Regions from separate parts of the Homo sapiens genome. Here all the other regions are reported to be linked to region 1. The links are microRNA targets in miRTarBase. Many come from high-throughput screens and were not tested one by one. Region 1 holds a microRNA gene; each other region holds the end of a gene's coding sequence.

Evidence for each region. The annotated mature microRNA hsa-miR-4510 reads UGAGGGAGUAGGAUGUAUGGUU and lies in region 1 at 2,089-2,110, opposite strand. An mRNA with a match to its seed (bases 2 to 7 or 8) in the 3' UTR can be bound and repressed. Matches are read on the target gene's strand: a 7mer-m8 pairs with bases 2 to 8, a 7mer-A1 pairs with bases 2 to 7 and ends in A, and an 8mer does both.
Region 2: the mRNA of DCX is a reported target of hsa-miR-4510. Seed matches in the 3' UTR shown: 7mer-m8 at 1,023-1,029.
Region 3: miRTarBase lists SHISAL1 as a target of hsa-miR-4510. Seed matches in the 3' UTR shown: 7mer-m8 at 1,186-1,192, 7mer-m8 at 1,560-1,566, 7mer-m8 at 3,345-3,351 and 7mer-A1 at 3,930-3,936.
Region 4: the mRNA of PSME3 is a reported target of hsa-miR-4510. Seed matches in the 3' UTR shown: 7mer-m8 at 3,007-3,013, 7mer-m8 at 2,616-2,622, 7mer-m8 at 2,527-2,533 and 7mer-m8 at 1,173-1,179.

The regions. Positions count from the first base shown.
Region 1 is chr15:35,924,641-35,928,972 of GRCh38, reverse strand. MIR4510 (microRNA 4510) reads right to left here and starts at 2,117; the gene lies at 2,050-2,117. All of the region lies in intron 1 of LOC105370766 (a long non-coding RNA gene), which reads right to left.
Region 2 is chrX:111,297,962-111,301,961 of GRCh38, forward strand. It overlaps DCX (doublecortin), which reads right to left. Exons shown (of 7, transcript NM_001195553.2): 7 at 1-3,782. The coding sequence ends at 3,726. Among named protein-coding and RNA genes, the nearest start is that of CAPN6, 29 kb to the left of the region's middle.
Region 3 is chr22:44,246,481-44,250,480 of GRCh38, reverse strand. It overlaps SHISAL1 (shisa like 1), which reads left to right. Exons shown (of 5, transcript NM_001099294.2): 5 at 796-4,000. The coding sequence ends at 796. Among named protein-coding and RNA genes, the nearest start is that of SHISAL1, 64 kb to the left of the region's middle.
Region 4 is chr17:42,840,900-42,844,899 of GRCh38, reverse strand. It overlaps PSME3 (proteasome activator subunit 3), which reads right to left. Exons shown (of 11, transcript NM_005789.4): 11 at 1,140-3,402. The coding sequence ends at 3,322. AOC2 (amine oxidase copper containing 2) reads right to left here and starts at 320. Exons shown (of 4, transcript NM_009590.4): 1 at 1-320. The coding sequence starts at 273.

The DNA of each region.
Region 1 (4,332 bases):
AACTGCTAACTCCTGTCTAGTGCTGTGTTCCAGTTGTCTACTGCTGTCTAACAAACCACCTTAAAACTTCAGGCAATTAAGACAAAACTTATTTAATATTTCTTAAGGCCAGGGGGTTGATTGTGCCCAACTGGTTGGTTTTCACCTGAGGTCTCTCAAGCACTTACAGGCAGCTGTCATCTAGGCCTGCAGTCACCCAAAAGCTCAGCTGGGCTAGAAGTTCAATATGGTACGCTTACATGTCTGGTAGTTGATACTAGCTGTCAGTTTTTGAAAGCTTAGCTAGGCTGGAGCAGCTAATCACGGCTTTGTTGTATGGTTCCTGCTTCTCACTGCAGAGACTGGGTTCTTGGAAGAAATGTCCTATGAGCAAATATTCCAAAATGTAGGGATCAGGAGTTGCTGGGCTACTTAAGGGCCATATGCAGAACCTCAGTTGTATATTATTGAATAGAGCAATCACATGGCCTACTCAGATTCAAAGTGGTTGGAAAAATAAACTTCTAATGGTGTAAGGACAAAATCACAATGAAGAAGAGTGTGTAAAGTAGCAAATTATATTGTGACCATCTTTGGAAAATATGATCTATCACATCCTCCAAGAGCTCTCTGTACTCTGGAATCAAAGCAGATATAAAGAATACAAATAAGTATTTTGGGAATATTATTTAAGGCATGGTATAAAGTTATGTAAGCACTGAACTGTAAGATGTAGTGACTTTGACATGTAAAGAAATTGATTATTTAATTGTGAGGACAGGAAAGAGCTCTAGACCAAAATTCTCCTTCTGGCTGTATATTTTATTAGCTATGTAGCCTTGGGATAGTAACTGGGCCTTCTAACTGTGTCTATATAACAAGAGGTCTGGATTGGATAATCTGTAAGAGACATTATCATTCTTAATAACTAGGAAACCATGGGCTTGATGCCTATTTGCTTACTGCGGGTCAGGGAGAATAATATGGTGAATGAATTGCTTATAAATCAAAATAACACATTTTGAACAGGGTTTGCTTTTCTGGGAATCAATAATTGACATTAAATACTGTAGAGAAAGTTATTGATGACATTGATTGTTAGATTAGTCCTTTGGCTCTAGAGTCAAAGGAAGGCATTTCCTAATGATCTTCTATAATATACAAACTTTAAGTTTCTTTTCTATGTATTTCACTCTAATGTGAACTCAAATAATCTCTGACCTGCTAACAGATGTGGAAGCTGACAAATTTATTTGTAAGCAGAATAATTACCTCTTAATATTGATTTGTAAATCCATGTTGCCATTCATTGAATTTCTCCAAGTAGAAACAAGATATATCCAGGTCTACGACTGTGGATGGCTACATGTGGATCCCTACTTAATATTGAATGAGACAATGCATATCTGTCACAAGGTAATATATGATAGCTGTATCTAATTGCATATAAAAGAGGACCAAGCCAATTGACATCTCTCTGCTCTCAAGAAAACAATGTGAGCAGGACATAGATGTGTCTTGTGTTCCACACAGGGGGATTTTGGAGTTGTGGTAAATGAGATGGATTCTCTCCAGCGAACAAACCAAGAAAGGGTTGGAAAACAATATAAAATGGTCAGACATCTTCTGGATAGAGATTGTAGCGGAGTTTAGCATAGGATATGAGCCTTGCTAGGTTTTTCTATAATGACAAGTTTAAACAGGACCAATTTGCATTTTTATAAACAGCAATCACTTCCTAGAATTCTAGGGTTTCCCAAATCAAACTCCTGAATGTCAGTCTCTCCCACTTCAGTCATGGGTAACTGCCCTCTCTCTGAGCATTACCCCTCATTTATCTTAAGGAAAATGATAGACCAGTTTGTAGCATATCCTAAATTCTCTACTTAAATTGTGCTGCAATAGACACACAATGAGACACCATCAACTAAGCAACCACTGAATGACTATTACATACAAGACACTGTATTGGAGGCTATCAAAGGGTATATTCATTCATTCATTCTTCTTCTTTTTTTTTTTTTTTGCTTATTCCATGAACATTTCTGAGTGCCTACTTAATGACAGGCTCTGTCTGTTGTGAGAAAAGATTGTAGTTGTCTATCTAACAACCATACATCCTACTCCCTCACATACACACTATTCCACAGAGGCAACCTGGTATTCATCTTAAAGGCAACAACTCTGGGGCCAGATCACCTGAGTTACAACCCTGCTGTCACTACTGAATAACAGTGTGACCTTAATTAATTAATTAATTAATTAATTAATTAATTTATTTATTTAATACAAGGTTATCTTGCTGTCTCACCAAGGGTGAAGTGCTTTGGCATGTCCATAGCTCACTGCACCCTCAAACTCTTGGGTTCGAAGGATCCTCCAGGTTCAGCCTCTTGAGTAGCTAGAACTACAGGTCCACACAATCACACCTGGTTAATTTTTAATTTTTTTTGTAGATATGGGGTTTCACTATGTTGCCCAGGATGGACTCAAACTCCTGGCCTCAACCCATCTTCCCACCACTGCCTCCCAAAGTACTGGGATTATAGGCATGAGCCGCTGTGCCTGGCCCTTAAGTTACTTAATATCTTGATAAGTTATAGATAATAACCACCTCATATAATTTTTGTATTAAATGATTTAATACACATTTCTATATCTCTTTATGTATGTTTAATAACTCTTAGAATAGTGCCTCCCTTGTTGTAAGTGCTGTGTAAGAGTTGATTTTGTTCAAGTCTTGGTAGGCCATATCCTTCAAAGGAGACTAAGTCCCTTCTCAGCTGAAGGTGCATATCAACTCTGGTTGAAATGACTCATGTAAATTCCATTCTCTTGTCCATGATGTAATGTCATTCTGTCCAGTAAAATGTGAGGGGAAGTCTGGGGTGGATTTCTAGTACAGTTTTTCTGACTTTTATGAAAGAACATAAGGAAGAGATGGTCTATCTTCTCACCTCTGGAAGTTATTGTTGAGGATATAAGGTTGGAGTAACTTGGGGATGTGAGGGGCCACGTAAGGACAAACACGAACATTCCAAAGATGGCAGAACAAAATGTGGAAATGAAATGGATCCCTGAGCCATTCATTGAGCCCTTGAAGTCAGTGATCTTGGAACATACAACAGGACTTGTCAGACAATAAAGATAACAAAGCCCTCATTGTATGAGTCATTTTGCTTGTTTTCTGTTACTTGCTGGTGAGGTCATCAGGTGAACTGACACATCGTTCTTCCCTGATCATGAGGATTCATGGTATCATTAAAATTTCTTTTTTATTTAAACAAATATGAGAAACGAAACACGCTCAGACTTTCTAGTAAGGAAAAACAAAAGCCCACCTCAGAGGACGAATAAGCAAGCCATTTACCCTAATTCAGGTGTGTGGTATTTATTTTAATATGTATAAAAATTACAATAGATACAAGTGTAAAATGGTGTGAGATTGATTTCATCAGTCTTGTCACATAAGAAGAATAAACCTCTGGGTCACTCTCCGCTGCACGATGGCATAATAAATAAGGAAAACATGGTCATGACTCCTTCTCTATGAGAGATGCGATAGTTGATTAAGTGCAATCTATTAGTAGCTGCCAGTAACAAGAAAGGTTAATTTAAACCAGATAGTCTCAGGTTTCAACCTCTTCTATGGCTGCAAATCTGGATAGGTGTCCTTTGCTTACTGGTTCAAGCTACTGACAGGCAGACCTGAAATGGTTTTGGCTTCTGTCTGTGGCCCCAGAGCCAGGCAATCCAATAACAGTCTTTTCCCTTTAACTCTCAAACATAGGGATGATAGTGGCTTTTTGCTACTGTAATGTCTGGGTTGCCTTATTATCATTTGTTTGGCTTCTCAGCACCTCCCTCTATTAAAATTCCTCCTATCTGGAGTGACTATTGTTGTCCTGATTGATACGCTATCCTTGGTTTTATTCTGAACTATGGAAATCATAGACATTAGTTGTAACATCCAAGACTCAACCTTGACTTCTCCCAGTGATCCTACCTTTCCAATCATTGGTGATCATACCATCTTCAGTTGTATTTCAGAGGGGACTTACATGCCCCTGATTGCATGTATTCCCCAGACAAGGTCAACCTGGTTGAAACACAGCCTCAGTCTAGTATATCAATGTGTAATTAGTTCATTGTTTCATTTGACCTATGAATAACTATGACCAAGAGGGTATCAGAATTTATACAAAGCCATGTTATTATGGAATTCTAATATAGTTTGCTTTGCTATATATGATGGTGTTTTCATGAGGAGACTTTCATATATAAATAATAGAGAAAACTTGTAACATGGACTGTCCCACATAAGCAAAGCCACAACAAAAAACACATGAAAAG
Region 2 (4,000 bases), not on the chromosome of region 1:
GTGAGACCAGGTTATTTTCTCTAGCTCATCTTACTCCCATATTCTAAAAGAAATCATTGCCAGTGAATGGTAGCCACACTAGTTTTTTTAAAATGTTGAAAAGCCATCTCAGAAAGTTAGGATGAACAAAGCTATTGTTCCACTCTTTCTTTTTCTACTCTGGAAACAAGAAACATTTCCCTCAGCCTGGAAAGACCAACCATTATGAGATGACACAAGGTGAACTGATGGAGAAAATCAATCTTCCTCCATTCCATTTGGGCAAGGCAAGCATTCAGTGGGGGGCTATTCAGAGGGCTCCTCACGATGGAGCAGTGATCTCCTGAATCAGATGGACAAGGCCAGGGACCCCATTGCTCCTATTGGCCCTCAATGCCTCACTCTCTTCAAGGACATCTGCAACCCATGTGGATGGGAACCAGGTGAATGCAGGGAAAAGGGGCTGTATTAGGTTGCTGGGTGGATTTCCCACTGAGATCAGGGCAGCAGCATGTGGCTCCAAGATGCAACATGACCCTGAGAAATAACTCTCAGGAGCCTAATGGAAGGCAATACTACTTAGTGGGAAAAGGCCCTGGAATAAGAGCCAGGAGATGTGGGTTGTAAACCCAATCCTGCCCCAGCCAGCTGTGTGACCTTGGGGAAATTACTTTACCTCTGTGTCTCGGTTTCCTGGCCTGAAGAATGAGAAATTTGGAGTAGAGGAGTAGATGATGTGATCTTAAGGTTCCTTCCAGCTAGAAAACGCTATAATTCAATCTAGGCTAATACTAAAGTCCATAAGGACACAAAGCAGTCATGCTAATGGCTATCCTTTCCAAAACAGTGAAGAGAAAAGGAGCTTTTCTCTCAATTTACCCCTAGTTAATACTACTTATGAAGTTAGTTGTTCAGCCCAGCCCCAATATATACATTTTCCCCTTCTTTGTCCCTATTTCTATTTCTGTAGGGAAGAAAAATCAGGAGGTAGGAACAAGCAAGAGATGGATTGTGTGTGTGTGTGTGTGTGTGTGTGTAAGAAGGAGGGAGAAGTATAGGGAGTGGTGGCAAATGCTTGCTGACTTGATGTTTGTTGACCGTGCAGAAATTAACACAATGGAACTTGAGTGCTAAAATTGGATTGGGTAAAATTGGAAGTGAATGACAGGGGTGGAGGAGCTCAGTTACAGACACACAAAAAAAATTGCCTTGAAAGTGGGCCAATTTAAAATGCAATTAATTATTGGAGACTTAAATTTTGGACTATGCCAAGCCTCATCCCCTGCTCCCTCCAAAATGGCCATAAAGAAACATTTCCTTATACTCGATTAAAAGTAAGATGGAAGATGTACTATTGTTATTGAAGATTGTTGGTTCAAAGGTTATCCTAAAGAAAATATATCCATTTGGTATTTTCTAGTAGTACATATACCGCAATCAAGGAAATACTCAGAGAGCTAGTGTGAGGCCCAAGCATAAGGAAATCTGGATTCTTCCTCTGGTCCTGCTCTTTACCAGCCTCCACTTCCTCAACTTAAAATAAAGGTGATGGACTAAATGAGACCTAAAGTGAGACTATGGGTGGAGTCATTGGGGGTTCTGGCCTGAAGTTTAAAATCAGGCCTCCCACCATTCTTTATGCCCACACCCCCTAATCCAAGTATCACTTTTTCCCAATTAACTACAAAATGTTCTGGGAGGCACTAAGAAAACCCTGAGCTTCTAGAAAGAAATAGGGGCTTAGTAAAATGGGCTTATTAATGGTTTTGAATGGGTCTACAAAAAAAGGAGAGGGGGCAAAAAGAGATCCTCATCATTTGGGGTTCTTCAATTTCACCAGAAACCAGTACTACCATCATCTCACTTTTCCTGAACCGAAAATGTTTCTGGTAGCTACAGACATCTGAAGCTTGTCTAGGGGCATCTGAGCTACCCCACCACCACTGGGTTCCCCCCTACACAGTGCACATCAGCAGTGCCACCCAGTTGCCACCAATCCATTACAGGGGTGTCCTGTAGTATTTCCTAATTTTGAAGCAGCTGCAGATGCACACACACACACACACATGCACCACCCCCTCCCACCACCACCACACACACACACAGCAAGCTCATTCCATTTAGAGTGGAGGAACAACTGCAAGCCATTCAGTAGCCAAACAGCAGCTTGGCTTCGAATGCTGTGCCTTTCAAAATATCTGCACAATTACAAAGAAATAAGGAAATCTTCATATCTGCTAAAAGCAAACACAGAATTGGCATGCATGACCTTCACTTAAATTTAGTTGTCTTTGCCATTATGGGCTATGATTACAGAAAAAAAAAAGCAGTGTTATAAACCTGTATCTCAAAAGACTGAAAACTATTTCAAATGATCAGTCCTTAGTAAAGAGAAATCCTTTCTAATGTTAAAGACAAGTGAAAGATTTCTGTGTCTTCAGTATGAAATATTAGGATTATAGATAAAAAGAGTTGCTTAAAATATGCTGTAACATTTCATTTAAAATATAATTAGAATGTCTGGTCCACATTGAAATTATTAATGCAAGCATAACTGTTAAAAAGCTATCAAAAAACTGATTCTATTGAATTGGCCTCTGCTATTCATCTTGTTTTCTCCTGGAGGTTACTGTTTGGCAGTGACAGCATAATTTCTAAACTACATTATTCTTCTGCTTTTTTTTTTTTTTTTGGTAAATTTTCTTCATGTGTTTTTTAGACAAAAGAAAAATCACCAGTTTATAAAAAAGGAGCCTGAAGAGTTTGCTCCTGAAATACAGACATGAATTTTTATAAAAAGGATATTGATTTCTTGCTATAAAAAGAGACTGAAAGGTGTCAGACCTGAAAACAAATTCTCACAGTGTTTTCAGTGTTGGCTGTTAACAAGGCATTCAATAGAACAGAGATAGATGGATACCATACAGTTCATGTAATCATGTGGTATGTTAGACAGCCTTCTAGAGGAATCAGGTATATGAAGTCCCTTACTCCAAACTATTATCAATTGCTTATTGATTCCAAATTGCCTCAGTGGAGAGATTGACCAGGAATTCACTGTGCTTTATAAACTCTTCGGAAATGTCTGCAGTATTTTCCAATTCTGTCTATTCTCTTAGCTAACCCAGCACCAGGATCCTAAGCATCTGGTGTCACAATTATAAGTTGTTGGTTTATTTCTCCCCATTGACAGCCAGAATTGGTGCTGGACAACAAACCCGGGCCTCAATCAGGAGTGAAGAGTGAGGCTGGGGAGCTGCCTTGCTGTCCTTCCAGGGTCCTCCACCATTCTTGAGATCCAGAGAAAAGGGGCACTTGTGTTTGTCATTCTTGGATCTGCCAATGAGTTTTTTTTTTCCCACACAAACATTTTAAGTGCTGTATATGTAAACAGCCCTCTACAGAAGGAAGACTGTATGGGCAAAATTAGACAGGGCAAATATAACGCAGGCACCTAAGCTTTCCATTGAAAGGTCATGGACTAGCACATTTTGCATCCCTGGAATGCTGCCCCAAAGGATGGTTATCAATCTATCTCTCATAATTGGTAACTGTGGATCAGTGGCCCAGAGGAGAAATCACAGGAAAATAAACCCAACATATTACAATGTGTTTTTCAAAATAACAACAACAACAAAATAAAAACTTGAAAGCACCAATAGCCCTGTTGGACACTTGAGCAGAAGTACCCTACTACAATGATAGGCTTGGATTTGTACTCTGGACTCTGAGCACTCTCCCCTCCTTTACATGGAATCACCAAGCGAGTCCGAGTCATCCAAGGACAGAGGCAGGTACAGGTCCTATAAGAAGAGAAGAGACAAAGTTAATTTTCCTTTTCTTGATATCTTGAGCTCTGGAATGTCTGCTTTAGTTTTTTTTATTAATACTTTAATTTTTACAACATAATAATTATAGATTCACAGGAAGTTGAAAAAATGTACAGGGAGGTACCCTTGTACCAATGTACCCTTCATTCAATTTTCCCTAATGGTACCATCTTGCAGTTTAACATGTGATC
Region 3 (4,000 bases), not on the chromosome of region 1:
TTGTCTTGTTTGCAACTTGACTCTGCCAATCAAAGCTATAAGTAAGTGCCCCGCAGATCTGTTTCCACACTGTAGATCTTGTTCCACTGGTCTCCTGGCTTTTCCCTATTCCAGGAGCACCTTGGTCTCTTCTTTATAGCTTTGTATGACATGGTCATATATTAGTGCCATTCCAAAATACATAATGGTTTTTGTCAATATGAATGGTATCTGTATCTGTGTTTAATATTTAGTTTGTTATGGCAATGGTGACCATATAATTTATCAGCCAAATCAGAATACTTTTGAGGATAAAAGGGGAACAACATTAAAAATTATGTCAGAACAAGTGTTAACTGAGACTGTCCCAAGCCATGACATATAATTACCCTAGTAATTGCTGAGGTCAGTGCACACTGTTGCATTTTATAAATTGATCTGATGTCTTATAGGTTGACTATTATACGTCTATGTCTGCACTCTCCATTCTACTAATTAACCTGTTGATTCTGTTAAATTTTCTATGTAAGTTATCCACAATTAACTGTAATTTTGGTTCTTCTATTCCAGTCCTATTCTATGCTTATTTTTCTTGTCTTATTGCATGGGCCAGAGCTCTAGTACTATATGGAGCTATAATGATAGCAGACATTTTTTTTCTTTCTTCCAGTCTTAAAGTCACATGGTTCGCAATGTTCAGAAGACAAAACCCACATGCTCAGAGAAAACCTGGCTTCTTCCGGCACTGAGGCCAGAGAGAAATGTCCCCATGGAGGAGACACCATGTGATACTTTTTTTCCTTGTATTTCCTCCAGAAAACGCTTTTGCTGTGCCTCAGGATGGGGGAGATGAGATCTGAAGCACCCGGTGCAGCCTCCGAGAAGAACAACTTCTACAGAGATGCCAGGGACAGCCGAGGTAGCGGCGGTGGCACAGGAGGAAATGCTGCCTGTGCCCAAAGCCCCCTTCCGCGGACTTCTAAGATTAGGAGCAAACTCAGGGGTAGGGGCTGGGGGTGCAGGGGAGGGGATTCTGAGCCACCTGTCCGCAAGCAATAGTCCTATTTTGGGCTGGTGGCTTCTGAGAGGTGACTCATTGTGGACTCAGGATGACCAAGACAAAGCAACTCTGGCTGATTCCAGCCAGGAGGATTGAGGCCTGTGAGTTATACCTGTGGTTGAAAACCGAAGCTTCCCTTGCCCCTGCTCCCTCCAGTAGTGGCCCCTTGGGGCTATTTGTGTCAGAATATTGAATGTGCGTGTGTGTGTGCGTGTGTGTGATTTGGGGTGTTCTTTTTGTTTGCTTGGTTGGTTGGTTTTTATTGGGGCTTCCCCCCTCAAGTTCTCTGATGGGCATGAGTCACCCTCCGGCTGGGGGTTCTCATCCGTGTCAATGTCCGAGCCGCAAGCTTATTGCTAAGCACAGGGTACGGCCCCTCTGTGTCTCGGGGAGCACTGGGGATTTGAAAATGCCAGTCAGGGTTGTTTCTTACAGAATTCGTTCCTGTAACAATAGTAATACTAAGGGCTGCATCTCAGGCTGACCACAGGGCAGGTGCCAAGTTAAGTGTTTTCATGCACTCCCTCTCTCACCACCTGGGAGGCAGGTATGATTAACCCCCTGCAGAAAAACTCACAGTGGGGAAGCGGTGCCGGAACCCAAAGTCCAGGCTCCAACTCCCTGGACGTGACATGCTCGCCAGCCGGGGTACACCCTGCACAATGCTGGGAGCATCTCCTTGATGCCTCCACCATCACCGCCTGGAGCGCTGATCCACTCAGCACATTCTGGCTAAGCATCTGCTGTGTGCCAGGCCCCGTGCTGGGCAGTGATGGGAATGAAAGATGAGTTAGATCTCATCTCTGCCCCCGGGGAGCCTCCCATCTGGTGGGAGACACAGACACGTGGATCTTTGCTGGAAAGGGTAACAAGGCCATGGAAACCCAGGCAGGAGCGTTCTAGAAATCCATCCACTTTCAAGTAGGACTTCCATGCCCGTAACATCCACCCACCGAGCTAATCACCCCCACTCCTGCCCCGCTGCCCTGGGACACCTATGAGATGGCATCACCTAAATCATCACAAACATCTCCAAAGGCCATGCTGCCAGTGTAGACACACTCATTCCATGGGTGTTAGTGATACCAAATCTCCCCCAGCTCTTAGCTCGGGAGGCCCTGCTTGATCAATGTGTGTGTCCTCTGACGCAGTTTCCTCATTTCATCAGACCTAGTGTTCTCACACTGACCACCCATCCATTCACCAGACACGACAGTGAGCAAGGCAGGTCCCTGCTCACTGTGCTAGCTTTCTAGCTGGGGCAGGAAGACAGTGAAGAAGGAAGGTGGCGAAGGCAGTGAGTGCTCTGCCGGGAACTCAGTGCCAGGAACTCAGTTCGAGGGACACGTGAGTGAGACCCTTGTGGACCTGGGGTGGTCTGGGAAGGCCGCCTTGAGCAGATGATTGAAGCCCAGATTTGAATGACACACAGGAGCCAGTAATGGGCGTTAAAGATAGGAAAAGAGCATTCCAGGCAGAAGGAACGGCTAGTGCAAAGATCCTGCGGCAGCCACAGGCTTGGTGGTTTCAAGGAAGCACAAGAAAGCCAGGTGGCACAAGAAAGCCAGGTGGCTGGGGACCCAGAGGGAAGGCAGAAGGAGATGAGGGTGATAGTGCCCAGCTCTGGGCTCTGCTGTGAGTCAAGCTGTGCAAACACAATGTCCTGCCTTTGGAAAAGCAGAACAAACTTGCTAGGGTATAAAGCATCCTCCATTCTGCCTGGCTGTCCATCCTCTCAACAGCCCCATGAAGAAGGGGCTCTCCCCATTTTATGGACAAGAAGACAGACTCAGCTGGGTCAAGTGGCTTGCCCAGGATCACACAGGTCAGCTGTGGAAGACCCAGGCCCCTGGCTTCAGTCTTTGGGTCCAGCTGTCTCCTCCAGGCAGTGCTGCCAGTGTCCAGGCATATGGCTTGGCAAAGTGGGAGAACCTCTGCTTGGGGTCTCGATTGGAGAAAGGAATGGCTTCCTCTCCCCTGATGTGAGCCGTCCCAGGGCCATGTTGCCGTAAGGGGGTGCACAGCCTGTCCACTAGCCCAGCTGCGGAAGCCACAGCTGTGTCCCACGTGCAGTGCCTCAGAAGGCAGAGGAAGCCTTGAGGTGGGGGCCCAAGACCCAGATTCTGACATCAGCTCTGCCACTGAGAACAGCGTGACCTCAGGCAAGGTCTGTTACCTCAGTTTCCCCATCGGTAAGAGGAAGGAGTCAGATGGGTATTTAAGGAGTTTGCAACCCTCGTGTCCTGCTGTCCTGGACAATGCTCTGTAGGTGCTTCCTCTGCCAAAAAGGAACTGGTGGCCTTGCCTCCCTCTCCTGGACACCTGGGGTCAAAGGTCACTGCCAAATAGACAGCTAGAACTGGGGTTCACCTAAGCATCCCTTGAGATGTACAACCTTCTAGGAGGACATTCCTCCTGCCTGCCCCCCTCCCCGCAAGAGGTCTTTTCAGGAATAACTGAAAAACCCATGGGGTTTGTGGTCCTGCTGCTCTGCCAAGTCCCTCTTGGGCAGCTGGGCTGAGGACTGGAACATTCTGTGGCAAGCAGGAGGCCTCAGCAGAGATCACCAAGACCCAGCACACCTGGTGCAGACAGCCACGGCATCCTCCTTCCTGCAGGTCACCCCCACGAGCCACTTAACCTCTCAGAGCCTCTGCTTCTCACCTGTCAAGTGTGTGAGGTAGGGTACCAGTTAGTCACGGTACTTGCTGTCTCACAGAGGAGCCGACAGGTGAGAACAGTGTGCATGTGGGTGTGAACACTCAGTGTGGAAAGCAGGTGTGTGTGTATTCAATCCCCCAATGGTGTCAAGGGCTCCTCAAAATGCCATGGGTCCCCAGGTCATTGTGATAAACACTGTCCCCATCCTGCTGTGGTTGTGGCTGGAAGGTCCCTCAAGGAGTAGACTGTCCCTGAGAACAAGATGGATGCAGGGTAGTGACGAGTTCAAGCATAGCTAGA
Region 4 (4,000 bases), not on the chromosome of region 1:
GCAGTTGTCCGAGGGCTGAGCCTGGGCTGCGTCCACCAGCCCTGGCCCCAGCCGCTGGGTCAGAAAGCGCATCACAGCTGTCAACTCCTCTCGGCTCAGGTCTGCAAACAGCTGGCTCTGGCCAGGGTGTGGCCAGGGCTGGGCCCTATGGGATACAGAGGGGCAGTGGGGAGGCTGGCTGGAACCACCTGGGCTGGTCAGCAAAACATAGGCCAGGGCAAAGATGGTAATGAGGGACAGTGCCAGGAACGCCAGGACTATCTTGAGATGCATGGTGGATGCTGAGAGCTGAAATCAGAATTCTAACAGCTGCTCCTTCCAGTTACTGACATCAAGTCGGGGTTTATATTCGCTAGGATGGATAGGAAGGGAGAAAACTCCACCCCATGGGTTGGGCAGGAAATTTCTGACCTTGATTTATGTAATTCTGTTCCAATTTTCTGTCCTGTGGTTTGGCCCAGGGCACTGCTTCCACATGCATAGCCTCTTCCTTGCCCCTGAACTCCCACTGGTAGCAGTCAGTACCAACTACTGATTTCCATCATTTAGACCAGATGAAAGGGAATCTGGGTTAACGATGCTAACCTCCAGTTTCCACCTGGAATGGGTCTCAGGAAGAGTACAAACCTCAGATGCCCAATTAAGTTCTGCAGCCTGCATGCAAGCACTAAGCTGTCCATTTTCCTACCTCCTGGCAGGAACTGCATCCCAACAGCTCCAGGATTCACTGCCATGTTCAGCAGTAAGCACTGAATTCTACTTGTTGCCTAATGCCAAGCCCTTGATTTGTAGTCAGGCCATTTCCAACCAGTGGAGTGGCTGAGGGCCTGGGCTTAGTAATCAGGTTTGTCCACCAATCCCAGTTCCCTCAGCTGTGTAACCTTAGCGGAAATACTTATCCTGAGTCTCAGTGTCCTCATCTGTAACAAATAGATACAACTATCCTATAGATTCCTGAAGATTAAATGTGATCATGCACATTAGGTACTTAACAGCCTGGCACAGGGGAGGCACTCACAAACCGCTAGCTTTTGGTAGTCATCTCTGAAACAGAACAGAGCAGCTGCTCCTCCATTGTTCAAGACCTTAAACTCTTTTTACAGAGACAACGAGGGGATCATTGGAAACCAGAAGGCTACTTGCAAGGTGGAAGATGAGGAAACTTTATTTCAGAGGGAGATAGATTCCTAGGCAGCCCTCCAAGTAATTTGAAAACCAAAACTAGGAGTCTCCTCAAGAAACTGAAGACATTATTCAGGAAGAATTAGTATAAGGTAAAGAAAATGACTGGGTAGGACGCGCCTTGAACCAGTTCATTCCTTACACATGGAACGATAGCAGCCTCTACTGGCAGTTCATGGGTATCACTCGGGAAGGAAGGAACTAGGATCTTCTGAAAGTAGGGAGAGAAGGCAGCTTAGGTCTGGGAAGAGCTAACTTTCCCATAATTCAGACTGAACACAAATGAAGCACCCAACCTTGCTCAGTAGGCAGAAGCCTCAGTCTTTCCACTATACTGGGGAAAAGATTCAGCTCAACTGGCATAAGGACACACAACAGGGTGGCTAGGTGTCCATGGAGGTGGGTGTCCAAGCGTGCACACATATGAGCATGAGTACATCCCTAGCCACCAGAGCATTGCACCAGGGTCTGCGGCTTTAGAAAGAGGTCAAAGTACCTGTATTTTTAATAATTTCTTGACATGGTAAAAGAATTTTACATTACGATCCATGGGTGATAGGGTGAGGAGGAGGGGCAGTGGAACAGTCCAACAAACGAAACGGGAAACTGAGAAACACATGGAGGGAAGGGGGAAGGGTTTTAGCTGGAAGGGATCTGGAGGGTGGGTGGGAGCACTGCCCAACTAAAATGCAATTGGTTTGTTACTGAGTACTATTCGTGGGAAGACAGCATCCTGACTCCCTCTCTACAGAATATTGGGAGTAAAAATGATGCATCCCCGGTGGAAATATTATTGGGGGTTGGAAGACAGAGACAGGAAAAATAAGTCAGAAACAGACACTAAGAGTCACTGGCAGGCTGACTGCAGGTATCAACTCTCCAGCCGTGGTAGAATAAAAGAGCTAGGGGCTGAAGGGGATTAACACAAAAGCTGTTAACAATTAAGTGATATCTCTGGAAGATTCGAGAGACAGGAGGCAACTCTTCTATAGTTTTGACTTGCCCAGCACATTTCCACATACACAAATGTGTATATGCACGTGTGTGCATGCACATACACATACACACCAATGATTGCTTTCCCCGGAAGCCCGACACTATAAATAAAGAGAAATAGTTCCCAAAAGGAAAGCCCAACATGAGCAGCAGCATCTGGACCTCACACTTGCAGAAACCTTCACCCCAACTGAAAACTGGCTGGGAAAAGGCAACCAGGAGTCAAGCTCTTGCAATAATGCCAAAAAGGGCTGAGTCAGAGAGGAACAGGCTTTCCCCAAGCCCTCTGCTTCTCATCTCTCTGTTCTCCACCAACTCACCCTGGGTACCAAGAGGCTACAGTATCAGGAGGGAGGACGGGCCCAGGACGTTTGTCTGGGTAGATGACAACTAAGACAACTGTCACCTCCTGAAAGGTATGTGACAGGGGTTGTGGAGAGGGAGGGTATGTTAGCTAATGGAGTAGGAGTCTGTGTGTGCATGTCTGTATGGGCGTATACATGCATACACATATGTGCATGTGAAAACGCCCATTATAAAAACAACTGAAGGAGCTTCGGAATTGACTGAAGGCCTAAGGTATTTCTTGTCACGATCAAGATTCAAAGTGGGATGTACACAGATGGGAAGCCCTAAGTCATCACCAGGGCAACTGTGGGAGGATCCAATGCCCCACAGAGGAAAGAAACAGTAACCTCATGTGAGGAAGAGAAGTTCGTCCCCCCGCCACCCTAGTTCCTAAAAAACACCTAGCACTTTCCTTCCGGTTCCCTCAGCTTTTAACCAACTAATTATCAAACGGAAGAAAACATAAAGCGCAAGACACAGGAGGGAGAGAGGGGGAGAATGAAAACACAGGTATTTTTGTGCCAACATCCTGCACACACAAACCTGGAGTTCTCCAGAAATTACGACAGGTTGGGTGTGGGGTATTAGGGAAGGAAATAGAAGAGTTCCTGAGGCCTGAAAAAAGAGGTAAACACATCACAGAACTAGATGAGAGTTTCATTAGACTCTAACTAAAAACAGAGAGGTGTGATTACTATTTCCAGCCAGTTTCCCCATCACGATAGTCATGTAACAAACCAAGGCAATGTCGGTCTTGAGCCAGACTCACAGAGTCCCCTGGCCCTGGCCCTGGCCTCAGTACAGAGTCTCTGCATTGCTGCTCCGGGGCCGTTTGATCTTCTCGATATTTTTCAGGATCATGTCATGTAGAGTGACCTGAGAGAAGAGGGATCAGGGGAATCACATATCTGTACAACCCTTACCTCATCAAGAAAATGAGAGACCCCTTCACAAATCCCCAAGCAATCATCTGCATACGGTAAGTCCTTAATGTCATCAATAGGTTCTTAGCAACTGCGACTTGAAGGAAATTAAAGTACAGCAGGTAAGCAAATCAAGTACAGAAGGTCCTCAAATAACCTGGTTTCAAATAACATCATTTTGTTCGATGTCATTTTGTTACAATGTTAATGAAAAAAAAACTTGGTTTTGATATACATCATTTTTAAAGTCGCAGTTTCTAAGAACCTATGGACAACATTAAGTGAAGACTTACTGTATTTTTTTTTTTTTTTTTTTTTGAGACACGGTCTTGCTCTATCGCTCAGGCTGGAGTGCAATGGCGCGATCTCGGCTGACTGCAACCTCCGCCTCCCAGGTTCATGCCATTCTCCTGCCTCAGCCACCTGAGTAGCTGGGACTACAGGCGCCTGCCACCACACCCGGCTAATTTTTTTTATTTTTAGTACAGATGGGGTTTCACCATGTTAGCCAGGATGGTCTCGATCTCCTGACCTCGTGATCCGCCCGCCTC